Regions from separate parts of the Homo sapiens genome. Here all the other regions are reported to be linked to region 2. The links are microRNA targets in miRTarBase. Many come from high-throughput screens and were not tested one by one. Region 2 holds a microRNA gene; each other region holds the end of a gene's coding sequence. Distances are between the middles of the regions.

Region 1 (4,078 bases), not on the chromosome of region 2:
CAGCTGGAGGCTGCCAGGGCGGCCCCACCAGGGACTGCCCCTAACTGCCTCCCTATGTCAGGTACAACCAGCAGGCTTACCCCAAAGGGCCTGATAAGGAAGGAAGAAATCAAAACCCCAGAGGAGCTCAGCACAGGTGAGACAAGACCCAGCAGGCTCCATGAAAGAAAAAGGACCCACAGGCAGCAAGAATGCAGAGGTGGAGATGACAGCAACATGGCCTCACTGTTACCAGGATGCAGCGCCTGGACAGGAGCTGGCAGGGGACTCCCAGTCATCACTGCCACCAGGGCGCAGCGCCTGATCAGGAGCTGGCAGGGGACTCCCAGTCAGGGCCCAGTGGGCAGCCGCTCCAGCTCTCTGAAGTGACTACAAAGCCAGCTGGTCTCAAAAGTGGCTGTCAGAGCAGCTAAATTCTGGGCCGTGGGGAAAGAGCAGCGGAGGGAAGGAGGAGGAAGCAAGTGGAGGTGGCTGGGGTGGGGCAGTGTCACGAGCGTATGTCTCAGGTGGTCACAGGCCCCCCCCCCTCCCCGCCCAGGTCTGAGGGGACAGTGAAGGACAGGGAGATTGGGTGCCAGGGGCCTCTTCTTTACAGTAAAGCAGTGTTTTGGAATTTGAGTGCAGAATGTAGGTTTGGGGGCTGGGTTGCATCTCGTACTCCATACTAGCTGACTCCCAAAACAGCTCACATCTGAATGTCAGGAAGAATCCACAGCCCAGCTGCAGGCGAGGTCAGAATGTACCCGACACTGCTGAGGGCGGCAGGCAAAGCCCTGGTCAATTCCTAGCCCCGTCCTCCGACCCAAGACTCCTAAGGCAGCTCCTCTCTGAGCAAAGGCCTCTAGTGATGATGGTTTCCCAACTTCTTTCAGGAAAAGGTAAGTTAGGTGTTGTGTGGCAACCCCCAGATGGGCCCAGACAAGTTGAGGGGAAGAGCTCTAGACAGGGCAGACAGCCTGCTGCTGGTCTCTGATCCTCTGCCAACGATTCCTCCAACTAGTCCAGGCATCTCCAAGGCTCCCTGACTAGACACAGCACCTTGGTTTCTGAATGAGAAAAGGGAACTCTTTCCCCCTCAGCCAATCAAGCAGCCAGGGCCTAACTCTGAGGCCTGTTCAGCCTAACTTAATTCCTTCTTCTGAGGCCCCTGGGAAGATGAAAGGCGATGGCTGATAGAGATGAGACACATTTTACTCTAAGAAGTGTCTCTTCTCTGTTGCATTTGCTTTCAGATCTGTCTTTGTCTCTCTGGGCCTAATTGGGTGGGAGAGAAGCTGATAGGATCGTTTCTACCTCTCCTAGACTCTGGCCATTCCCAGGGCCTGGAGTGGGCTTGGGGGAGATGCTCCAGCAGGGCCAGGGTACAGAGCCTCCACCGCCCTCCCATCGGCCAGGGGCACGCAAGGGGCAAAGGTCTCCAGCGAGAGCACAAATCTGACACAATTTACTTCTGACAAGGCAAGATGAGAGAATGGTCTGAGTCTTTCACAACCCTGGTTTTCTCAAGGAGAGGCCACAACCGGCCAAGCCGAGGCAAGCGCAGCAATTCTAGCCCAGGGTCACCCAGGAGGCTTGTGGGTGGGTGGAGTGGAGTAAATTTCTGGTGCCTGGAGCCAACAGGCAGAGAAAGGAGTGGGAGCTTCAGACCTCTCCCCAAAGGCAAGACAGAGCGAAGGCCACGCTGGGGCTCTGTCTCAGAGACGTACCCTCAAAACATGTCACTCCTCCTCTGTTCTAAGCACCAAGGGCTGATGCAGCCAGCCTGTACTCCCGCACCCTCCTGTCACGGCCAGGGTGCGTGCGCACCACAGAGCTCCGCTGGCCAGTTCCCTCGGAGGTGTCCCCCAGGCACTCATAATGCTGGTGGCTGAAAGACCAAAAGCAGCACCAAAGGAAGGGATCTTATTTAGGCACCAGCCTTTTGCTCTAGCAGAATCTGAGAAGACCACGGGTAGGGCCCTGATACCATCCACGCTTCCATTTGGGCTTCACAACAGGAGACAAGATCCCTGCACCAAGAAGAGAGCACGGTCTTTTCTGAGGAGAGAGAAGGGTGGGGAGCTCCGCCTCTGTCCTTCAAGGAGACTGGCCCACCAGTCTAGAGACACACACACGGCAAAATGTCATCGTGATCAGCAGGGTCTGTGCTAAAAAATTATAACTACACGGCATTTTCTCCAGTTCTGACACCTTTTTAATAGAAATCACTGTTTTTAGGAAACAAATAGCACTTTTGTAATTTTTTTTTACAATGTTTCTTACCTTGATCTTAATTTAAGTAACACTAGGAAGACCTCAATATCTTTTATTTTCCTTTTTAATTTAAAAAAAAGTTTTTTTTCCCCAGATACAAAGATTTTTGCCCTTGCATAAAAAAACAGTGCCCGAACGATGACACAAGGACTCACAAAGACTCACGGGACCTCACTGACACTATGATTCCTACTCTACCATGCAAGGTCTTGGCTACCCTTAATTGGACTGTCAGCCTGAAAAACAGCTTTTCTATTCCTTATTTTAGTTTTTGTTACCAAGAAAGTAAAATGAACAGTAAAATAAAACTTTCCTTAAAGAAAAAAAGAACAAAAACAAAAATTAAAGAAAGAGAAAAGAAACGTCTCCATTCAATTCACACACACCTGGGTCGCGTGCTGCTTCACTCAAGATCTTCTCTTCTTATAAATATAGAAAAGGGATGGAGCTTGTTTTCAAGTAAAATCACTGATCCACCTTTTTTTCCTTCCTGGACACACACATCCTTCTTCCCTGCCTTGGGCAAGGGCCAGTGGCCCGGGCTCTGCTTGTTCTTGGAGAGGAGACAGCGGGATAACCACGGAGATGCGCGACTCACCAAGCAGGGAAGGAAGGAGACTGGGCAGGCTTCAGGAGTGGTGGGGTTACCGCGCAGGGAGCAGAGTGCAGGGGAGAAGAACCTACTGGCTGTTCTTGGTGTCAGTCTCCCCTTGCACGAGGCCCCCGCCAGAGGTGATTAAATACTGCTTATTTGATACACTGTCCCACCCCCTGCTCCCTCCAGCCACTCCCCTTCCCTCTTCTGGGCACTGGGGTTGGTGAAATCTCAATTCCTTTTTTTGGTTTTATAGTAGCGAAAGTTTAGAAACAGGAAAGCCCACACACTCTTTGGACTTGTCTTCTCTACCTAAACAAACGGCTCGGCAAGTAAGGATCTGAAACCTGCTCTCCTCCCTCCGCCCGTCCCTGCTCCCCACCCAAGAAAACAGAAACAAACCCATCGTGGCTGTGGAGGCTGCTGCAGGCACACACTGGTGTATAATAGAGAGAGTAAATATATTATTTCACTTGGCATGGTGCTGGCAAAGAACCTCCAGCTGGCACTATTTCATGTAACATGGTCCAATCTTTGCATGTACACACAGAATAAGAAGGATCAATTGGCAAACTCTGGTGCCACCTGGCACAAGCATCTTCTCTCTCTCTGGAACCAAAGAACCAAAAGAATTCTGCACTTTCCAGAAATCCGGCTTTGCTTTTCTAGAGTCTTCAGTGTTCTGTTCTCCTTGCCGCCGGGATCCCGTGGCTTCTCCTAGAGGGGCTCTGTTATTTAGTCTCTTCCCCCTGGTTACAGTTCGCTGTGCAGCTCTGGGAGGAGGGGGAAGGGGCCGGCGTGGAGGTGGCGGCATTGGCAGGGGGGGTGCAGTCCGGGCCATTGGAGATGGCCCCCACAGTGGCCTCAGAGTCTACAGGTTTGGAGAGGTCGATGCCGTGGATGAGGCGAATCAGCTGTTTTACCTTCTCCAGGGAGCTGTGCATCTCCTTCTGCCGGGCCAGGATGGTGTTCTTCATTTCCATGCATTTCTGCAGCAAATGACAAGGGCAGTGGCACTGAGCCGCCTGGTTTCTAACAGGCCTGGCAGCCCCTAAGAGCAGAGCGCCTTCTCTCTGCCCAGGGAGAAGAAGCTCTGCTGGCTGCTGTGCAGCCCCTGGGCCTTGCTGTGTTCCTCAGTGGAGTGGGCGGCTACCACCTAAGGAACAGGGCGGGTGGAGTGGGTAGGCTGGGGGGTCCCAGGTCCCAGAGGCAACAGAGGGAGAAAGAGCA
Region 2 (4,085 bases):
GCTCCTAACACGGCGGCTGTCTACCGCCTCTCCAGCCCCACCACGGCCGCCTCCAGCCTGCCATTCCCAAAGTGCTGGACGGCACCCACGGCACCAAGCACCTCCCGGGGACAGTGTGGAATCTCGTGACCACCCCAGACACTCGGTGCCATTCCACACACACCACAGACCATGGCTTGAAAGCTACTTGCAGCTACTTAATAAACTTAATTTCAGCCGGGCACAAGGTGCTCGCCTGTAATCCCAGCGGTGCTGCAGTGAGCTGGCCACCAGAAATCAACGGAGGCCTGTCCCAGGACCTTGGGAGCGTTTCTTCTCCCAGGCTGAAGGAACCGCCATCTGCTCTGGAGGAAGCCGGCCAGGGCTCTCTGGAAGAACAGCCACCTGCGGCGCTCCGAAGCGCTAGAAACCTTCTCTCAGCCGCAGGGTGCGGGAGCTCTGCGGGCTTTACCTCCGACTTCTCAAATCCCTCCAGGAGGCAAACTCTCCCTGTCTGCTCCTCCCTCCGCCCCCCAGGAATCACAGGGACACCCTCACGATTCTGATTTTGGCTACACAGGAGACTAGAAGATCCGGGCGAGCACCGTGTTCCAAGGCCCATGCGGAGCCCAACTCCACTAAAGAACCTCTCTAGGGCGGCCGGCCACCGCGCTGCCGGGCTTGAAGGAAGGGCGGAGGGACAAAGAAAGGCCGTGGCCGAGACGGCGGCCGGAGCAGGGCGGACTCACCTCCTTGTGCCCTTGGATCTGAGAGTTGACGAAGGCGCGGAGGATGTGGGAGGTGAGGGGCAGGTAGACGTGGATGAGCTGCGTCTCCTGGTGCAGGCAGTACAGGGAGAAGTAGTTCCGCAGCTCCATCGTCTGAATCGCGTTCTCCTGCTGCGGAGCAAACAGCCGCCTTTCGCACCCGGCCCAGCCGGCGACGGGAGCACCAAGGCCCGAACACCAGCGTGCTCCCTGAGCCAGGGCGGCCCCTTCTCCTTCAGCCTTCACCAGGCATTTGGAAGGTGGCGAGGTAAGAGAGGGCCGGGGAGGGAGCACCGTGCAGGGAGCCGCATCGCTCTGGGCACGCGGGCCAGCTCCCTGCCTCCACTGCACCCCCAGCTCTGTTCCAGACACAAGGAGCCAACCCAGGGGAGCCCACCAGGACGGCTCCGGGTCCCACCATGGCCGGGAGGGGAAAGGCTCCCACGGGCCTGCTCGGCCGCCCCGCCACCCACCTCCACAATGCGGGACTCCAGCTGCTCCACGGACTCCGGCTCGCGGTTCTGCGCGGTGGCGCTCATCATCTGCCTCTTCATCAGGCTGTACTTGTGCAGGGCCCGCTGGTGCTTGTGCAACACGCCCTTCTCATGCCGCTCGCACAGGTCCTGCGGGGCCGGGGGAGGCATTCGCCCGCTGTCTGGATGCCTGCGCCAGGGCCCTGCGGAGCCGGCCGAGGGAAGCACCCCCGCCAGACGGAAGGCCCCGTCTTCCCCTGCAGCCCTGGCTTCTCAGCTCCTCTTCCGTCCCCCAGGAGTTAGACCCTTGAAGGATCCTAAGATCATTCCTGAAAGTTCTGCCCCCAGCCAAGGAGCAGCCAAGACTCACCTTATAGGACTGCAGCAGATCCAAGAAGAGGTTCAGCTTCTCCACCACGTCGTTCTCTTCCTGCTTACCCTGGAAGGCGAGGGGGAGCTCACCCACGCGGACGCACATAGGACCCGGTCCCTGCCCGGGAACTCAGACCCAAGCCTGGCCTGGGCCGGTTCCTTCCTCCCAGAGTCAGACGGGCTCCCCAGGACCACCAGCCAGGTCTGCAGGGGGCCCCCTTCCCCACCAGCCCACCCATTACCAGGCGGACACGCCTTCGAGCCCAGCAGTCTTTTTTTTTTTTTTTTTTTGAGTCGGAGTCTTCGCTCTGTCGCCCAGGCTGGAATGCAGTGGCACGATCTCGGCTCACTGCAAGCTCCGCCTCCCGGGTTCACGCCATTCTCCTGCCTCAGCCTCCCGAGTAGCTGGGACTACAGGCGCCCTCCACCATGCCCGGCTAATTTTTTGTATTTCTTTTTTTAGTAGAGACGGGGTTTCACCGTGTTAGCGAGGATGGTCTTGATCTCCAGACCTCGTGATCCGCCCGCCTCGGCCTCCCAAAGTGCTGGATTACAGGCGTGAGCCACCGCGCTGGGCCTGGCCCAGCAGTCTTGATGGGAACAAGGCCTGCGTTCCCGCGGGACAGCTGCCCGCCCTCCTGCTCATCAGCCCGGCCTGCCTTGCCTTTCTCAGGCCTTCGCAAAGCCGGCGACTCTCCCAACACATATGCTGGGAGAGCCAGATGCCCCAGACCCCCCGACCCCTAAGGCTCCATCAAGCACTGCAGAAAACCCGAGTTCCCATATAACGCTGTGAGCCGTGTGCAAAACGGGCACGCCCAGGAGGGGCACGGAGGAGAACAAGGGTGTTGTCTCCGCATCAGTAACAGGAGAGAGAAACGCAGGCCTAGGAAGGGGGCACAGGGAAGGGGGCGCAGGGTAGGTAGGAGAGACAGCAGCTGCAGGAAGGACGTGCTGCTGATCCAGGAAGAGAGGCGGCCGCCCCAGGCTGCACGCAGAAGCACCACACTCGGCGGTGGGGGCAGCGGTGGACACAGGCTCCTCTTCGGCCCTCACACAAGGCTCTGTGCGGGCAGCACAGCCACAGAGAGAGCCCAACAGGGCAGTGAGTGCACAGCAAACGGCGGGCAGCCCTGGAGTGGAACAGGGGCCCCATCACGGCAGAGGGATGCCCTGCTCCCAGAGTCACCACAGCACCTGGGGACACGAAGCAGCCCCCACGGGCGAACCCCACCCAGACGCTGCCTCGGCCTCCCCGGCTTACACCAGTAGCAGCCCTCGGTGGGGGCGCAGGCCAGGCACAGTGCACACGGCCCGAACACACGGTGCTCAGAGGCATCTGCGGTATGAAGAGTCGGTCCAAAGCCCTGGGCTCCAGCTGCCACTGAGGGGAGCATCCAAGCTCTGGAGACAGCAGGGGTCTGGGGAAGGCAGCGGAAGCGGCAGCCCATCCACCCCTGACCTGCACAGCTCACCACAGACCCCCCAGCCACAACCGCAACCAAGCCAGGCCGATGGCAGGTATCCTGGGGAAACCCCCGACACTGACGCCTTCAGTCACACCCGGGCCCTGAAGGGCTCCGGTCCCCACAGCTCACGCCCTCAGTCCCCACAGCTCACTGAGCACCTCGGGGAGACCAAGCTCCCTCCACGATTCCTCGGGCTCCACCCGTGGTAGGGGGTGAAAAGCTCACCCCACGCACTGCACGTCAAGCTCAGCAGGAGACGGGGCAGGCAGAAGTGGATGGAACGAGTTTTACGGGACACAGCCCTGGAATGGGAGCCAGGGGTGCCGCCCAGGCCCTGCTGCACCCCAGGGGACCCTAAGATACCCCTTCCACCCTCCAGACCTCAGGCCGACTGAACCCGGAGGCTCCCCGGCCACCAACCCCACACCCAAAGCAGCTGGGATTCCAGCCAGTAAAATGTGCCAGGAGAAGAGGTGTGTTAAGAGTTTCTAAAACTCTAGAGAGAAAACGCCAGCTGACCGCAGGTGCCCAGCTCCCACCTGACCAGGCAGGGGCTCAGGAGAATGTAGGCTTATTCCCTGGCCCAGCAGAAGAGGGGGAGTTCAGGGGTCCCTCTGTTCGTGTCATTTGTCACCAAGTCCCATCTGTGGTTCAGTGCTGCACAAGGCCCTAAACCAGGGGTGTCCAATGTTTTGGCTTCCCAGGGCCACATTGGAAGAAGAAGAATTGTCTTGAGCCACACATAAAATACGCTAACACTATGATAGCTGATGAACTAAAAAAAACAAAAAAGGAAAAAAGAAAGAGAGAGAGAAAGAAAGAGAGAGAGAGGAAGGAAGGAAGGTAGGTAGGTCTGTGTGTAAATCTCATAATGTTTTCAGAAAGTTTACAGATTTGGCTTTTTTTTTGAGACAGAGTCTTGCTCTGTTACCCAGGCTGGAGTGCAGTGGCATGATCTCAGCTCACTGCAACCTCCGCCTCCCAGGTTCAAGCGATTCTCTCCTGCCTCAGCCTCCCGAGTAGCT
Region 3 (4,084 bases), not on the chromosome of region 2:
CTCCTGTGCTATCTTCTCTTCTATCCAAGTAGAATGTACGCCAGGAGCTCCTTCCCTCTAGCAATTTCTACTAAAATGTCCAAGTAGAATGTTTCCTTTTACAATCAAATTACTGTATTTATTAATTTGCTAGAATCCAGTAAATCATTTTGGTAGCTCTGGCTGTGCTATCAATAAAAAGATGAAAGCAACAAGTTGATTTTTTTTAGGTCTACTATTGATTGAACATTCTCCAATGGGCAAGGCTCATTGTCAAAGCAGGGTGAACATGATCAGATTTTCTTCTGCATCATCACACAAGCTGCGAGTGTTGCTGCAAAGCACTTCTCAGTACTCCTTCCCTAACCTCAGTATGTTAATAGCCATTCATACTTGGCTTAAGCATCACCATTCTGGCCACAGTCTGAGAGATTAGTGATCAAAGCTCCCTTCCCTATCACTACCACCACCTACTGATAACAAAGATTTCTGAATACTTAGTAGTAGTAAAATATTTTTCAAGCACAGAGTTACAGCTAATCCTGGATCACTTGTTCTAAATTCATAAGGGAGTATATCAAGAGCAAATGAAGTAAATGATTCTTTCCTGCGTGTGGGAGTCACCATCATTTTATTCAAAGGGAGTTCCTGTGATAGGTTCATTCCTTAAGTGGTGCTACAGAAGGACCCTAGGAAAATGCTGATCTTGTCCTGAGAGGCAACTGATTTGAGAAAATGATTATACTACAGCAGGAAGGCAGCACCAGTGAACATATGGTAAATGGCAAAAACAAGACAGTTTTAGAAACTGCTAATTCAGTAGCAGCCTTGGCCTTTCCCTTAACTCAAGCAGGCTGGAATCTGTCTTTATAGTCGGCAACTTTCCAAGATAAAGCAGTGATAATAGCAGTTGGCAACACTAAATATCAATATCATCACCCTTTAATGACATGTTACCCCTTTCAGATCTAGAAAATCAGGGAAAAAGTGATGTCCCAACTCTACTCTAAAAACCTGCTCCTACTATTTTAGTCAGTGTTTCTTTAAGGAAGAAGAGGACTATGTCCCCAAAAGCTAACTCTGTTTTATAGCCCTGGTGGATCCCTGAAAACCCTATTTATTCTATACTGGGCTTTGGAATATGAAAAATGGACCTGTGTGGCCGGGCGTGGTGGATCACACCTGTAATCCCAGCACTTTGGGAGGTCAAGGTGGGCGGATCACTTGAGGTCAGGAGTTCGAGACCAGCCTGGCCAACATGGTGAAACTCCATCTCTACTAAAAATACAAAAATTAGCCAGGCATGGTGGCGCACACCTGTAATCCCAGCTACATGGGAGGCTGAGGCAGGAGAATTGCTTGAACCCGGGAGGCAGAGGTTGCAGTGAGCTGAGATTGCACCACTGCACTGCAGCCTGGGCAACAGAGCAAGTCTCTGTCTTGCAGCAGGGGGAAGGACCTGTGGTACTCCTACAAACTTAACAACTTTAGCTTTTCGGGGAACAGTGGTGGTCTCCACAGATAGCTAGAATCTTCTAAGATGAAAATAAACTGTTTCATCCAGCTGCTTTCTGCCTGTTAACCTTTGCCACTTCCATTCCTTCAAGTGTGTAATCCCCAGGGTTGTCTTGTATTACACACATCCTTGTTAAGTAAATATACCACTGTTGATTTCTTCTTCCAGTGCAACATTTGGATTAAATAAAAATCTTTAGTTTCCAGATCTTGAGGATTAGTTTCATTGACTATTCATCAAAACAAAGGAGAAACCTGACCTAAAAGTTCTTGCTAAAGTAACATATCCATCATTTAAAGCATTTTTTATACAAATGCATTTTATTGTTTTAAACAGAACAAAAGAAGAGGCAGAAAATATTTGCATATAACAAATCCTAGCTTATAAATGTAGTTTTTTAGCGGTGATGTCTCTAATCATCATTCAGGGATTTTTTTTTTTTTTTTTTTTAATTTGCTTCACTGTGTCTCGAGCACTGATATTGGAGAAAAGCACATCCGGCATAAAGTGTAAACCAGTGTCTCAAACCACTGGAAGAACCGGGAGAGCAAACATGATTTTTCTTATTTCCTCTAAGTAATCTTTCTTTAGTAAAACAACAAGTGATCTTTGGCATAGATTCATACTTTAAAGGCATTAATATTGCATTTATATCAGGCAAGCAACTATACAAATATGCTGAGGGCCTTGAAAATAATCATCCTCATTATAAAGGAAATAGTGAAAGCCTGAGTGTAAAGGACCAACTTAAGTTGTACACATTCGATGTTGGGAACTAACACACAGCGATGGGTGGGAAGGAAGGATGTTCAGGCAAGGTTCTTACTCCTTTACTCATCTGGTTCTGGCTTTGGGAAAAAATAAGGTTTCATGTGCTGGGAAATACTTAGCAGTAATAAGTACCAAAAAGGAAACACTGCCCTCTCATTTTGCCTAGTAGGAACTTACTGTGGTGATAAGAAATATGAAACCCATTACTCTCTTGAACCCCATACTTGGGAGTAGATGCAGAGAGCTTGGTTGTAGTTGGTTGCAGGGAGGTAGGAATTACAGGAGTAGTATTTCCCATTGATTCATCTTCAGCAGCACTAGAATTCTAGTCTGCAAATACCACTCTCCCTTAGGCAGGAAGTGTCCTTCAGACAGGGCTGCCTTGCCATTAAACACTCTTAGGGGACAAGCACTCCTCTTTCTTAGGACTGAATTTAAAAAGGATCTTTTAGAGTTACAGATGAACAAACACCTACATGTCTTTAAAATCTTGTTTAGAAAGGATGTGGAGGAAGGCTACAAAAACCAGGATAGGAGACATGTTTTGGTTAAAATTAAAATGCAGCATTTCAGCTCAAAATGAACAATTAAGAGCTAAGAATGAATGATAAGGCCTCAGCACAGACCTCTGCAGGCAGTGACTAAGCATGGAGTGCCGGGAGTGGCCCTGCTGGGAAGATGGCAGGGCCACACCCTGGCTACTCTGCCCTTCCAGTGGCAGAGAGCACCAGGACACAGTGTGTTCATGGGATGGCTACCTTGGCGGGCTGAGGCAGGATATGGGACGGGAAGTTTCCCTAGCACAGACATTGCTCAGGGGCATGGTAAAAGCAGAATCATATGATTCTGTGATTTCTTCCTGACAGTGAAGTACAGTTTTATATTGTGGGAAACTAGAAGGATTAAACTGAGGAAGGGCAGGAAATGAATCCAGGCCCCCATATGCTGGGGCTCCACAGAGGCCACCTTCCCCTGTAGCAGCAAAGCTCACTTCTGAAAAGGACCCAGGTAGCACAGCCCAGGGAAGGAAGGTATGGTTGGCAGCAACATGGAAAGCTCAAAACAATTTTGGGAGGCACAGCAATTTTCTTCTTAGTAACTGATTTGCCTGGGCCCTGGGTCTTGGGATTCTGGAAGAGTGAATGGGAGCCAAGGAAAGAGAAACAGAGGGAAGTGTCCCCTAGGGAACAAGGGCAGAGCAGAGTGTCTGGCTAGTGTTCACTTGGATTCTGAGCTTATGTGAAGTCCATGGGCTAGAAACCCAGTCTGCCTATTGGGATAGAGGGTGCACAAGTGTAACTGTGTTTGAGAATACAGGCTTTATACAGAAACACATTTCAAAGTGTCCATGAAAAAAGAGTATAAATGTCTTCTAATTTGAAGAGGCCCCCATTCCTTTCTGATGTGCCAGGCCAGGATGTGATTTTTCAGCTCCCAGCAACTCTGGGCAGCTCCTGGGACTCAGATCATTTTCCTTCTTTTTAGTAGAGGTTTCTGTGCCAGCCAGGCTCAGCCAGGTGCCTACTGGTACCAGGGAGTCTTTCTAACCCAGCGCAGTGTAAATCCAGCATCTGTTCGAATTTTGATTGAAGCAGCTTCAGCTTCCCGCACAGTCTCCTTCACAGACTGCATGAGGTTCTGGGCATTGTGAACCAGCATCTCTGTGGCCTGCAAGGAAAAAGGTACTTTCCGTTACCCAGGGTCCCTGATGCAGGCCTGTCTCTAAAATAGGTTTCAGCCAGGAGTGGGATGCAGCTAACCCCACTGGTACCTGGCATCCCCCATATTTGCTTGCATCACTAGGGGTTTTCCCAGATC
Region 4 (4,085 bases), not on the chromosome of region 2:
AACCATATTTGACAGTGATTTAATAGACATTGCTATGTATAGCGGGGGTCCATGCCCACCCAGCAGCAACTCGGGCATCAGTGCAAGCACCTGCAGCAGTAACGGGAGGATGGAGGGGCCACCCCCCACATACAGCGAGGTGATGGGCCACCACCCAGGCGCCTCTTTCCTCCATCACCAGCGCAGCAACGCACACAGGGGCAGCAGACTGCAGTTTCAGCAGAACAATGCAGAGAGCACAATAGTACCCATCAAAGGCAAAGATAGGAAGCCTGGGAACCTGGTCTGATTCCTTCCAACGTGCACTTCAGCTGGAGAAAGAAACCAAGAAGGGAAGCGGCCGCTGGGCCCCTCCTGCGCACAGTGTTGTTCAGTTTCACATGGTACAAATAAGTAAAACCAAATGAGCAAACACGGTCTTTGTTTCTGATTCCTTTTAGGGGAATTGCATGCAAACTAGACTGAAATGATACAAACTTCCATCTGGTCTGACCGCAAACAGTGTTTATTTGGGGACAGGGGTTGGGATGGGGGTGTGGGCAGGGGAAAACAGAGAACGGGATGCTTTGAAGATACCATGAAATAAAACCCACAGAGGTATTTGATGTATTTAATTGTGAAAGGAGACTTTGCAGATAAATGAGGCCAGAATGGCATGTTTTATAATTAACTGAATAAAGAAGGAAGCATTATTATATATTATTGTGGGGAAGAACCAGCCAGTTCGCTTTTTCTCCTAAGGTGTGGAACTTTTATTTTGTTTTAAAAATATGAATCAAAATTCCTGTGTTGTGTGCCAAGGTATAAAGTGGAGAAGTTAGATGAGTGCAAGGAGCTCCTTTGTGTTGTGATGATGTGTTTTAAAAGTTGCACTATCTTAATGTTGAAAATATTTACAAGGGAACTGTTTTACGTGAAGTTCTGTATGTTGTCTTTTCACCTGTGGATTGTAATCAGGCCCAAGGAATATCCTGGAGTGGTCCCCAGAAGCATCCAAGAAAAGATATTTGGGGACGTAGCCTAACATTTTACCAACTTACGTAAATCAAAAAAGTCATTATTGTTGCAGGAGTTTGCATCAAATAGCAGTGCATCGCTGAAGCTTTTGGAGACTTTTGGATGGAAGATAAGATAGGGAAGATTAAGTTCCAGCATTTCTGACTTGTTATTTTGAGTTACTCTGCTACTCTTAGGCTGCATAGTTTATGAGAAAATGAACACATGCATTTATGGATCCAGTATCATGCAGTGCTGCCCTCATCCTCCAGCAGTGCAATTTCTTCAGTAATTTAGATTTTTTTCACTATAGCATGAAATATATTCAAATACATACCTTATTTTATGCAATAAATTGTTTAAAATGCAAGGTGGTTATTCTGCATACTGTTGAAATATGTGACTCCTCAGTATATTCCCATTGCCTCTCCCCCTTTCCTCGACAGCTTAGTTCAGTTCTGCAGGGCTGCTCAGTTCACAGGAGGCTCCCAGCAGCCACCCCACATCCAGCCTACACAGAACTTCGTGTGGGAGTGGTGTGGGTGGTGGTTTCTTATGCTTTGGAAGCCCCTAGAAATAATGACGGAAGAATGCCATGTTGCTGATCGTGGTAATAAGCCATTGTGGGTTATTGTATGTCACTAGTATTAGCATAGCATTCTTAAAGGAATGCAGTGCTCAAAACCTACCCAAATTCCCGCAGGATTCTACCAAACCCTTCCCCAGGCCAGCTTTTGTACTGAAGGCAAGAACTGGACAGTCAGAGAACAGTGGAGGGGGCAAGTGACTGAAGAGCACCGGGTAAAAAGCACAACATGCAGTTAAAATGCAACTAGAAAACTAATTTTAAATATTGTTAGTTTTAATATTCCTGATATTTACAAATATTCATTCTTATATACAATGAAAAAAATAACTTTCTTCTGCAGATGTAAGCACTGGCTTTTATAAGAGCAGCAGCCAACACGTTTAGCAGACACTGCGCGTGGAGAAGGGCTTATCTGCAGTACACTCTGCCATGTGGAGGGTGGGCCTCTGTGGCCTCTTCACATAACAAGATGAGCTGGAATGATGATTCCATGACTCCCACCTATGCAGCCTTAAAGCCAAATCCGCGTGTGTGTGTTTGTGTCTGTCTGTGGGTCTCGAAGGTGATCCGTCGGTGCGGTGGCTCTGTGCTGTAACTGGAGAGACTGTTCCAAACCCCAAGAGTTGTCTGATCCTAGTCTGTTCCCTTCTGCTTCTTACCTCTGTAGATAGGTCACTGGTTTTTGTTTGTTTGTTTTGAGGATTGGAATTTCCATTACATTCATCCTTTGCACACAGTAACATCCACAGAACTAGTCCAACTCTTAAAAGGAGAGAGGAAAAACACAGGCACCAGTTGTCAGCTCATGCTTACAACCTGTGTGGAAGTATATACAGTTGAGAGTCACAGTGGAGGTTCTGAGACTGGATTCAGTCTTGTTCCAGTGACAGTTGGAAGGCCTCTGCTGGAGAGACACCAGCTCTCAGGGCAGAGATTGGCTTGGGGCCAGAAGGACCCTCCCCAACCCTGGAGACACCCTGAAGGTTCACTGGCTCTCCAGATTAGCCTCTCTTCCTCTGTCAGGCAAAGATGAGGAGCCCGTGTTCCCATCGGGCCCTGCTGGCAGGGACTTGCAGTGGATTCTTGGTCAGGTGTGCCCACAGATGCGGAGGCGAGGTGAGTGATTCCATCATTTCAGTTCTCACCTGCAGTTTTGGTGAAGCAGGAGATGCACCCCACAGCTCTAGCTCTCAAATGGCTTCACAGTCCTTACTTCTCTACCTGCCTCAAGAAGGGGCTCAGAGCAGAGACTTGTGAATTCCTTAGTAACTGTGAGTATATGAATGTGTTGCACATGTCCACAGTATTGGCGAGATAATTACATAATTCAGATACCTTTAATCATCTTTCAAGAAAGAGGCTCCTCCCATTCAACCACCCTAGAGAACTGCCTTTGTTAAATAGTTATTTAAAGACTCATACATATCAAACCATGACTTTGAAAGGTCTTCGAGGCTGGGGCTCTGTAATGAATTAGTTTAAAAGCCAAGGTCATAACATGAATTGATGGTCAATTTCCCTTCAGCAGAAGGAAAAGGTGATTTAGATCAGTAGCTCTTTTGAAGGTTGTGGCTGACCTGTTCATACCGTGTCGCCTCATGGCTAGTGTGGCGTTGAAAGAGTAGCGACTGGGAAGATACAACTTACACAGTGGGGCCTATTGTTCTTTCAAGAACCCTTTTTTTAGCTTATAGAACCCATGGGTCCAGTTTAGTAACGAGTGATTTAGGCAATCAATGATAGGTTTATAATCTTAGATTATTCCAGCAAAGTGTGGATTGCATTGTTAGGAAGAACATTTGGTGGGAATGAACACTCCTGGGCATACCGCTGACTTTTGTCCCTTGTTCCCGGTGTAGGAGACCCAAGGCATCTTGAATCCCATCTATAAGAACACAATCTTCCAGCATACGTTTGCTTTTTCAGAAACTCTAGCATTCTCTTTAAATACTGACGCAATCCTTAATGGAAAAGAGATTTCATGAAGCAAATTATGTATTTCAATAGTTCTTCTATTTTTAGTGTCCAAAATTTACTAATACAGAAGCTTGACAAGCATGTCCTCACCCTCCCCACCACATAAACACATGGACACACACCCAAGCCACAAGAAATCCCAAGAGAGCAGAAGCGAATTTTTAAAAGATTTATCGTGAGGACTGCATTTCCATTCACTAATTTTGGCTCAAACTTATGAGGCAGGAAATAGGGGCCAACAGTAAATGGGGGAGGCCTCCTGACACCAGCAGAGGAATTTTGTACCCAGGCGAGGACTTCTTGAACTTCTGCGTATCTCCGTTTGATCTCTTTCACCTTTATTTCATCTTCATAAGAATGAGAAAGGCTCAAAAGGAAGCACTTTTAGAAATCTTCTCTGACCTAGAAGAATCCATCCAAATCCCTGCCTTCCTCTCTGAACCAACAGTTCCCTTCTCTGACAGGGGCCATCCTCTATCTTCCATCCAGCGGCTCTTCTTTTTAGGAAGGCTCTGGTGCAGAG
Region 5 (4,085 bases), 140 Mb from region 2:
CCCTCCCCAAATCAGCAGCAGGAAGCCTGGCTATGCACTCCATTAGCGTGCTTTCTCTACAAAGAGAGGCCAGGTGCTGTGAGCATCCCCAAACCCTTGCTCCGTACCCAAGGTTTTTCTCCCCAGCCTGCCATCCCGTATGCCGTTCTTAATTCTACCATTGTGCCCCCGCTCCGACATTCTCCTCCTTTGCCTCCCCTGTTCCCAGTCTCCTCCATCCCCCAAATAAGACACTCACAGTCAGAGGATGCCACCACATTCTGTTTAGTGTCATTGAACACAGCCTGTAGCCTTCTCCAGCATCACATCCCTCCCACTTCCCCAGGCCAAGAGAGATGCTGAAGCCTGGGTGGGGGACTGGCAGTGGGCATTTGAGCCCATGCCCTTGTGTACATAATCTCTAATATTTATATATATTGATATAGAATTCTCTCTATAATATATGTCATAGAATCTCTCTTGGGCCTGGCGTGGGAATGTGACATTAAGAAAACATGCTAAGACTGGCCAGAAAAATGGATATTTCCCAGACCTGGAGGATGGTGTGTGGGATGTATAGGTGAGGTCGTGGAGAAGATAATAAACTCATTCCCCAAGATACCCTCTTCAACACAAGGACAAGAAGGAAGGTGTGTGGTGGGGGAGGGGACAATGGAGGGGGAGGAGTGGAAGATTTGGATTTTCATTTAATAAAGTCAATTGAAAATGAAAGTGCACCCCCCCTCCAAAAAAAGAAAATCATTTAGCAAGAGCAGTTTCATTCACAAGAATATAAAAACAGCCCTGTTCCAGGACTGCTGTAAAACGTGCTGCACAGCCTTAACCCCAAAGGAAAAGCAACCCTTTCCCACCCCGAAACAGCCTCTTCCTGCACATGCCCCTCCCCACCCCCTGAAATAGACGATAAGCAACCCCCATGCACCCTGCCCCCAGCACCAGAAGAGTCCTAAGATGGTCCCAGGCCAGCTCCTCAGTCTCCCTCTTCAGAGCGAGTAGGAGCTCCTTGCAGAAGACAGACCCCCACCTGACTTCCATCTGCAGCAATATGCCAGCACCCTGGGGAAAGCAGGTTCATGTATGAACCCTGCTAGAGTCCTTCAGATCTTTAGTCATCTTTTGTCAGGGACCATTTGGCTTCCTTGGGAAAGGGAAGGAGGAACGAAAGCTGCTGTGGTCTACCTTTCCTAACTCCCCCGGGCCTGAGCAAAAACGAACTGTAATGAATGAACGCACTCACTAGGTGAGCTGTCCACCGTGGTCTGGGGGTATGATATGGGCACTGAGAGGATGAGACGACAGGAAGAGGTGATGTGGGAATAGCACACATTGGAGAAGGTGAGGAACCAGGGACCCCATGGAAGGAAGGTCACATGAACATGCAAAACCCCAGAGCCTGCAGCAGGAGACGGGTGGGGAATAGCTGCCAGGGCGGGCATGCTAGACCACCTCTCAGAGCTCCTGGAAATGAGGTCCTGGGACATGGAGTCAGCACACGTTAGCAAGCACAAGAGGACTCTTCCCCTGTACAGGCAGCATTCGGTTAGGTGACTGCACCTGCCTTGGTTCACCTTGCCTACGCCCATGTTTCCTCCAAAAACCAACCTCAGGATAACCATTGTCCCCCTTCCATGGAAGACACAGAACCCCCTGCCCTGCTTGCATCCCAGAAGTGTGAGTAAGAGAGTATGAACTTGATGGCGGGACAGGACCATAGATGGACAGAAACACCCCAACTCTCAACCTTCTCACTCCAAAATAATAAGTTCTGGGGCCTGGGGGTGAGGGCAAAGTTTGTGCCCAGGGCCAGGAGAGGACAACAGTGCTCCCTTCCAGCAGAGGATGCAAGTGGTAGGACTCCTGACAGAGTGTGGGTAGGACACAGGCCTGGGAGCCGGAGCCTTGGAAGGGCGTGAGGAAAGAAGGAGATAGGGCAGTGAGCCTCTTAGGCCTCTCTCTCCTACCCGAACTCTGCCTGTGCCAAGGGCTGGGGAGGGGCTACCTGGGCAGTGGCAGGGCCAAGTGCTCTCCAACCCCACAGCACCGCTGCTTTGCTCCGCCCATCCTCTGCCTGTGCTCTCACGGTAGTGCTGGGGCGCATATGCTGCTCAGTCCCCACCAGCATGGATGCCAAGTGTGGGAGGGCAAGCTTGTGCCTCACCATACACCATCCTGGAAGGAAGAATCCGCTGATTTTCCTCTCTTCCTCTGGTAGGAGGCCTGGGGAGGCAGGGAGGACAGCTGTGAGGCTGTTTGGGAGTCCTGGGAGGAGCTGAAGAAGGGGCAGAAAGTGCCGAGTGCCCACCCTGGCCCTCAGCTGCAACCCTGCCTGGCTGAGGGAGTGACAGCACCGGACTCCTCCCTCCACTCCACTCAACCCTGAGTGCCCAAGAAGTTATAAAAATGTAGAAAAGGCAAAGAGAAAAGTGTAAACAGCTTCAGAGGACAGGGGTGAATAAGGGGAGACAGCCCTCATGCTCCCCCTGCTGTTGGCGACACCTGCATCCTGCGTTGGTGTATCCAAGATGGGTGTCCCCACACCCTCCTCAGGCTCCCGGAGCAGGGATGGAAGAAAGCTGAAAGGGAAGCAAGAGCTGGAGCAGCCAGCCCTGGCTGGGTCTTTTCCCAGATCCTTAGGATCTTCCTTTTAGCCATGGGATATTAAAGATCCCAGAGCAAGGGGCTGTGTTTGTTCTTAGTCTCCTCAGTGACTCTCTTGTCTCCGGGCAGGCCTTGATAGAAAGAACCACATCCGTGCCCCCTGTAGATCTCAGCTGCCACATCCACCTCCTCCTCGACTCCTGATCTCAGAAGCCAAATGACCTGCTGAGGCAGCCTCTCCACCCTCCCCATGGACGTGCCCTTCAGGCAGCCTCCCCTGCGCCTGTCCAGCCATGTCCAACAGCCCCTGAGGTCTGTTCTCTCAGTAGGGATGAGCTGGGGCCACAGCCAGAGAAAACAGAGTTGGGAAAAGCAAGAGTGAAATGGAGAAAGGAGGCATTCAGACAGCAGAGTTACAGCTCCTGGAAGACGAAATCGGGGCGTGAAGAACTGAGATCCAGTCTTGAGCACAGCTGCGCTGCCCCCGTCCTCAGGGTGCACACACTGGAGGCTTTGTCGGCACAGACCCAGAAGCCCACAGCCCAGGTCCTTCTCCACAGCCACACCAAGCTCACGGCCATCTAGTTGCCCAGGTCTCAGTTCCCAGGCCTGTGGGTTTCTAGAGTGTAAGCCTGGATAAAATCCCATCCTGGTCCTCCATTTCCAGGAGAGGACTGGAAGCTCCTGGGTTCCCCAATGTTGTCTGCCCAGTTTCAGCTGTACTGCTGGGGGGAGGGAGGGTATGGGTCACAGCCATGGCCCTCAGGTGGGAGTGGAAGGCAGGGCATTGGGGGAGGAAACTAGTTGTTGGCCTCGCCTTCCTCCTCATCAAAGGACTGCACACCTGAGGATGTGACGTCAGACACCTTCCGGCTGAGAGCGGTAGACATCTCAGGGTCTTCTCGTGGGGAAAGTGACTCCAGGTCCCGGCATCCCGCATCCTCTTCCTCCTCAGGTGCCAATGGCCTCTTCTCCTCCTCAGCAGGGCCCCTTGCCAGGTCCACTGCGCCTACCCCCGGAGCCCAGTCAGTGTCTCCCCCCAGCAAAGGTGGAGGCTCCAGAGCAGAGTATCCTGAAGCTGGTTGGGAAGGTCCCATTTCATGCAAGCTGGGTTGTGAGTCATCAAATGCAGGCCCAAGATAGGATCCTGTGGCCGGAGAGGCAATGAGGGACTGATCGCTGGCTTCCCAGGCATCTGACGACCCCAGACAGTACATACCCTGGGACACGTAAGAGTGAGGCCATCCATCCATGGGTGCTTGAGCCAGGGCATCTGGAAAAAGAATCATGGAGGTCAGTGGGGCCACAGAATGTCAAGGGCAGGAATGACAGCACAGACAGCACAAGAGACAGCTAAGAGACAGCACAGAGAACTGGCAGTAAGACACAGAGTGCACAGTGAGTAGGGAGGACAATGGGAAAGCTGAGATGGACAAGGAAGTCTTAAAAGAACGGAGCTGAGTGGAGGCAGCTGAGATAGTTGGGGA
Region 6 (4,085 bases), not on the chromosome of region 2:
AACTGGGCCGGGGGCGGGGGGGGGGGGGTGCGGCGAGGGTGGTCTCCAGGGTACTGACCTGCTCCGTGTCTTGCAGAGAGCGCCTGCTCGCTGTGCCCCCGGGTTATGACGACCCCCAATAAAGGAAACAAGGCCTTGAAGGTGAGTGGGCAGGGACAGGAGCCTGTGGGCTGGGGTCGGGGGGCACAGTGGGCGTGCCCGCTTGGCCTGTGACCACCTGCACTGTGCCCCAGGTGAAGCGGGAGCCGGGTGAGAATGGCACCAGCCTGACGGATGAGGAGCTGGTGACCATGTCGGTGCGGGAGCTGAACCAGCACCTGCGGGGCCTGTCCAAGGAGGAGATCGTCCAGCTGAAGCAGCGCCGGCGCACGCTCAAGAACCGCGGCTACGCTGCCAGCTGCCGCGTGAAGCGGGTGACGCAGAAGGAGGAGCTGGAGAAGCAGAAGGCGGAGCTGCAGCAGGAGGTGGAGAAGCTGGCCTCAGAGAACGCCAGCATGAAGCTGGAGCTCGACGCGCTGCGCTCCAAGTACGAGGCGCTGCAGACCTTCGCCCGGACGGTGGCCCGCAGCCCCGTGGCGCCAGCCCGGGGCCCCCTTGCCGCCGGCCTGGGGCCCCTCGTCCCAGGCAAGGTGGCCGCCACCAGCGTCATCACAATAGTAAAGTCCAAGACGGATGCCCGATCGTAGGGACGCGCGTCTGCCCAGGCGGGTCTTTGCGGGGCCACTAGGCACATGGCGAATTTGGCTGCCCTGTCCCTCTGTTTCCTTCTCTTCTCTTTCCTCCCTCTCTTCCCCACCCTTCTCTCTTCCCTGCAAAGCACAACCTGTACCCCAGGGGCGCCGGGCTGAGCCCCTTTGATCTCGTCATTGTCGTCGTGTGTTTTGTATGTTGGGATTGGTCAGTTCGGCGGTGACGTGGGGTCGCCCCAACCCCTTTTGTACCAGGGCCATGCAGGCTTGGAGTCCAGAGTTGGTGCTGTGGGAACGGACTAGAGAGAGTTGCGGGAGAGAGAAGGAGCAGGCACGCTGGGCCTCGCGTGTCCCCGAGCAGTGAGGGTCCCAGTGTTCCCTCCACTCCCGAGTGGCCACAGGCTCGCGGGCTGGGAAGGATTCACTCTCTTTAGCCCCAGGGGAGCAGCTCAGCTTAGCCCAGCATGAAGAGATGGGCTCTGCTCTGAGAGTAGGGCGGGCTTGAAGGCCCTGATGGGTGGACCACCAGCCTGGGCGCAGTGGTGCTGGGGGCGTGCAGCTGGGCCCAGGGGCTGTGCACTCAGGCCTGACCCGTTGCACTGAACAAGACCAAATCTCTGGTTGTGCGCTTAACGTGAGGGTGGGTCCAGTGTGCCCTGCGATGGGTCCCGTGTCACTGTTTACATGACCTATTTGTGTGGTTATATAGCCCTTTATTTAAAAGAGAGAAGTTCCTTTTACAAAGTTATTAAATTAATTATATGTTTAAAAGTTAAAGAAAAAAGAGCTGCAGAGTATTTATAAAACTGTCTTTTAGAAAAAAAACAAGCAAGAAGACCATTTGACCATATGAATGGAAAAGGGAAGAAAGTATAATAGAAACTTTGCTAGTTAAAAAAAAAAGAAAAAAAAAGAAAAAAAATCCCTTTCTTGTAAACTTACGGACACCTCTTTGTGGCTGTTGGAGTTTAGTTTTTATATACACAGAGTTATCAGACATTATTTATAAAACTTAGTTTAAAAAAAAGACAAAAAAAAAAAAGCCAAGCCGTGAGCCGACCAGAAGGCCGTCCTCTTTGATATCTTTTGCAATTGTACCGAAAGTGACTTACTCCTCTGCCCTTCCTGCTTCCGTCTCTTGCCGGTGCCGTGGTGTCGTCCGTGCCTGGTGAGGTTTTGTGCAGCGGTAAAGTGCTGGTGCTTCTGGTGACCTTTGACCTGTGGGTGTCACTTCTTGTGTCTGTTTTCCCGTGTTCGTTTTTTGGGTTTAGTTGTGCTTTTGCTTCTGCTGGCTTGCTGGACCTGGGCTGGGGTGCCAAGTGGCGCCTGCTGCGTCAGAGCTCAAGGAATCTGTGCCCACCACCAGCTCCTGGTCCGTAGGAGGTGAGACATGGGGTTCTGTCATGCCCCCCTCCACTGAGCCTTGGCTACATCTGTGTCTAGGGCTTGGGCTGATCTAGTGGCGGGGTAGGTGAAACTGGGGTCCCTTGGGGCGCCCCACGCTGCTTCCACACCCACCACCTCTGGCCTTGGGTGGTGGCATTACAGGGATGAGGGAGTCACTGTGGGTGGCCACAGGGCTATGGCCAAGCGTTCCCTGGCCGTCTTCCTCTGGCCTCAGCTTTGTTCCTATAGGCTGCCCGCGCCGTGGGCTGCAGGTCTCGCCGCCCGCTTGATCCCTGAGGTGTTTCCATGCTGCGGGTGGTGCTTCCAGGCAGAGTGGGTGGGGGCCCACCGGGCACCGCCCTTTCTTCCTTGTCCCTGCCTCACTCTGAGAGCCTTGGGGGTCTCCACCAGTGCAGACAAGGGCTACAGTCTCCAGGGCCGGGTCTTGTCCCTCTTCTCCGCTGGTCCACGCTGGCAGCTCTTGGCTTCGGGCCTGCCTTCTGCCTCCCTTTGGGATCTGTGTCTTCCAGGGATCAGCTGCTTGGCTTCTGCTGGAGGTGCCTCCCTGTGGGGGCGCAGCCTGCCTCCTGCTCTCAGTTCCTCGCCAGAGGCTGCTGCCCTTCCTGGCTGGGCTCAGGAGGCTCCTTGTAGGCATATGATGGGGAGGGGGTGCCCCTACCCACCTCCAAGAGGCTACAGCCCTGTGTCTGGCCATGTGAGCCCTGGCCTTTCACCGGGTTGCTGGTTTCTTTTCTGTGGGGCCCAGACTTCTGTAAAGCACACAGATGTGGGTAAGATGAAAAACTGTGGCCCAACAGGGCTTAACCCTATGGATGGTGGGATTTTTATCCAATAGTTTGGCCTGGTGTGCCCACAGGATGGGAACAGGGAGGCACCATCAACACTTGTCATGTTAATGAGCTTTTCTTTGCTCGAGGTGTTCAGAGACAAGTCCTGTGTCTACCTGCGTCAGCCTGAAAATGGAAATATTGGCTGTTGACTCTTGTCATTTAGTGACTTCATCCCCCTCCCCTCAGTCTGATCTTGTCTAAGTAGAATCCAGGCGTTAGTTGGAATCATATCATAAGTATCCATGAAGAAAACGTCATGATCTGCCTCGGAGTGGGGAGAAACAGGCCCTCCTTGTCCTTGTGCAGCCCCCACTTTTGTCCTGGCTGTGGGTGGCCATCCATTTTGAGCACCTCTGCCAGGCTGCAGACCTGGAGGCGAAGGGAGTGTGGAAGAGGAGGGTGTAAGGGTCGACGCGTGCTGAATGGGAGGTGCAGGTCCTCGGTGCGTTGGCAGAAGAGGCTTCTGGAGTTTCGAGGCCATACCTCCTTTCAAGAGCTTTGGATTTGGGGCGACTTCCCTGGGTCTAGGGGAGTGTTCCTGTCCCCTGTCAGGTCAGCCCTGCGGAGCCACTCCACCCCTCTTCCCCTTCCCCTGGATTTCCTGACATAGATGGTGTGTTCATGTGCAGGTGTGAGTGTGCTGTCCTTCTGATCTCTGTTGATCCCGCTTTCCTACTGAGAGGGTGGTGGAGAGGGTGGTGGTCTCTTCTCACCTCAGTTTTTCTGACACAGCGAATCGAGGGCTTTGGCCAAGGCCAGGTCTCTCAAACTTGTCCGCCAAGTAAACCATGATATATGTCTTCCCTTCCACCTTAACTTTGCCCCAACTCCTCTTTTATCCTAACATGGACGCTCAGATTTCAGAGGAATACCCAGCAGGGACAGGTCAGCTCTCACCAGGAGAGTGAGGCCCCTGGCTGCTGCTCGGGGTGGCACTGGTGTTGCTGGCTCAGCTCTTGGTGCATGTTTCAGATATGTGTGTACACTTCTGACTGGTGATCAGGGCCCGGCCCACGGCCCTGAGCGGCTGCAGCCTGCTTTGGGACGATGGTCAGGTCCCATGTTGTCCCTGCTGCCTCCCTCTGGAGTGGCCACTTGGCCAAAGCGCCCATCCACATCTGGAAAGTCGGAGCCGCAGCCTGCTGCACCGTTTCCGCTC

What was found. Region 2 holds the annotated microRNA hsa-miR-6836-5p (CGCAGGGCCCUGGCGCAGGCAU, at 1,406-1,427, opposite strand). A microRNA usually pairs through its seed, bases 2 to 8, with sites in the 3' UTR of a target mRNA and lowers its output. Matches are read on the target gene's strand: a 7mer-m8 pairs with bases 2 to 8, a 7mer-A1 pairs with bases 2 to 7 and ends in A, and an 8mer does both.
Region 1: the mRNA of PHF21A is a reported target of hsa-miR-6836-5p. Seed matches in the 3' UTR shown: 7mer-A1 at 2,918-2,924 and 7mer-m8 at 1,351-1,357.
Region 3: the mRNA of VCL is a reported target of hsa-miR-6836-5p. Seed matches in the 3' UTR shown: 7mer-m8 at 2,948-2,954 and 7mer-A1 at 2,527-2,533.
Region 4: miRTarBase lists LDLRAD4 as a target of hsa-miR-6836-5p. Seed matches in the 3' UTR shown: 7mer-m8 at 2,639-2,645.
Region 5: the mRNA of FAM131B is a reported target of hsa-miR-6836-5p. Seed matches in the 3' UTR shown: 7mer-m8 at 3,378-3,384 and 7mer-m8 at 2,010-2,016.
Region 6: miRTarBase lists MAFG as a target of hsa-miR-6836-5p. Seed matches in the 3' UTR shown: 7mer-A1 at 808-814, 7mer-m8 at 1,343-1,349 and 7mer-m8 at 3,483-3,489.

What each region holds. Positions count from the first base shown.
Region 1 is chr11:45,930,389-45,934,466 of GRCh38, forward strand. It overlaps PHF21A (PHD finger protein 21A), which reads right to left. Exons shown (of 19, transcript NM_001352027.3): 19 at 1-3,837. The coding sequence ends at 3,580. Among named protein-coding and RNA genes, the nearest start is that of LARGE2, 9.8 kb to the left of the region's middle. RefSeq lists an enhancer at 110-199.
Region 2 is chr7:2,256,146-2,260,230 of GRCh38, forward strand. MIR6836 (microRNA 6836) reads right to left here and starts at 1,432; the gene lies at 1,370-1,432. SNX8 (sorting nexin 8) reads right to left here. Exons shown (of 11, transcript NM_013321.4): 8 at 1,590-1,658; 9 at 1,220-1,369; 10 at 729-878. RefSeq lists enhancers at 1,767-2,546, 2,547-3,326, 2,647-2,736, 3,247-3,316.
Region 3 is chr10:74,117,873-74,121,956 of GRCh38, reverse strand. It overlaps VCL (vinculin), which reads right to left. Exons shown (of 22, transcript NM_014000.3): 22 at 1,788-3,934. The coding sequence ends at 3,788. AP3M1 (adaptor related protein complex 3 subunit mu 1) reads left to right here. Exons shown (of 9, transcript NM_012095.6): 9 at 1-1,702. Among named protein-coding and RNA genes, the nearest start is that of AP3M1, 31 kb to the left of the region's middle.
Region 4 is chr18:13,645,369-13,649,453 of GRCh38, forward strand. LDLRAD4 (low density lipoprotein receptor class A domain containing 4) reads left to right here. Exons shown (of 7, transcript NM_001378100.1): 7 at 1-4,085. The coding sequence ends at 289. Among named protein-coding and RNA genes, the nearest start is that of MIR4526, 36 kb to the left of the region's middle. RefSeq lists an enhancer at 3,690-4,085.
Region 5 is chr7:143,353,152-143,357,236 of GRCh38, forward strand. FAM131B (family with sequence similarity 131 member B) reads right to left here. Exons shown (of 7, transcript NM_001031690.3): 7 at 249-3,871. The coding sequence ends at 3,399. Among named protein-coding and RNA genes, the nearest start is that of FAM131B-AS1, 6.5 kb to the right of the region's middle.
Region 6 is chr17:81,919,206-81,923,290 of GRCh38, reverse strand. MAFG (MAF bZIP transcription factor G) reads left to right here. Exons shown (of 3, transcript NM_002359.4): 2 at 77-141; 3 at 234-4,085. The coding sequence starts at 106. The coding sequence ends at 686. MAFG-AS1 (MAFG antisense RNA 1) reads right to left here and starts at 392. Exons shown (of 3, transcript NR_186500.1): 1 at 59-392. RefSeq lists an enhancer at 1-382.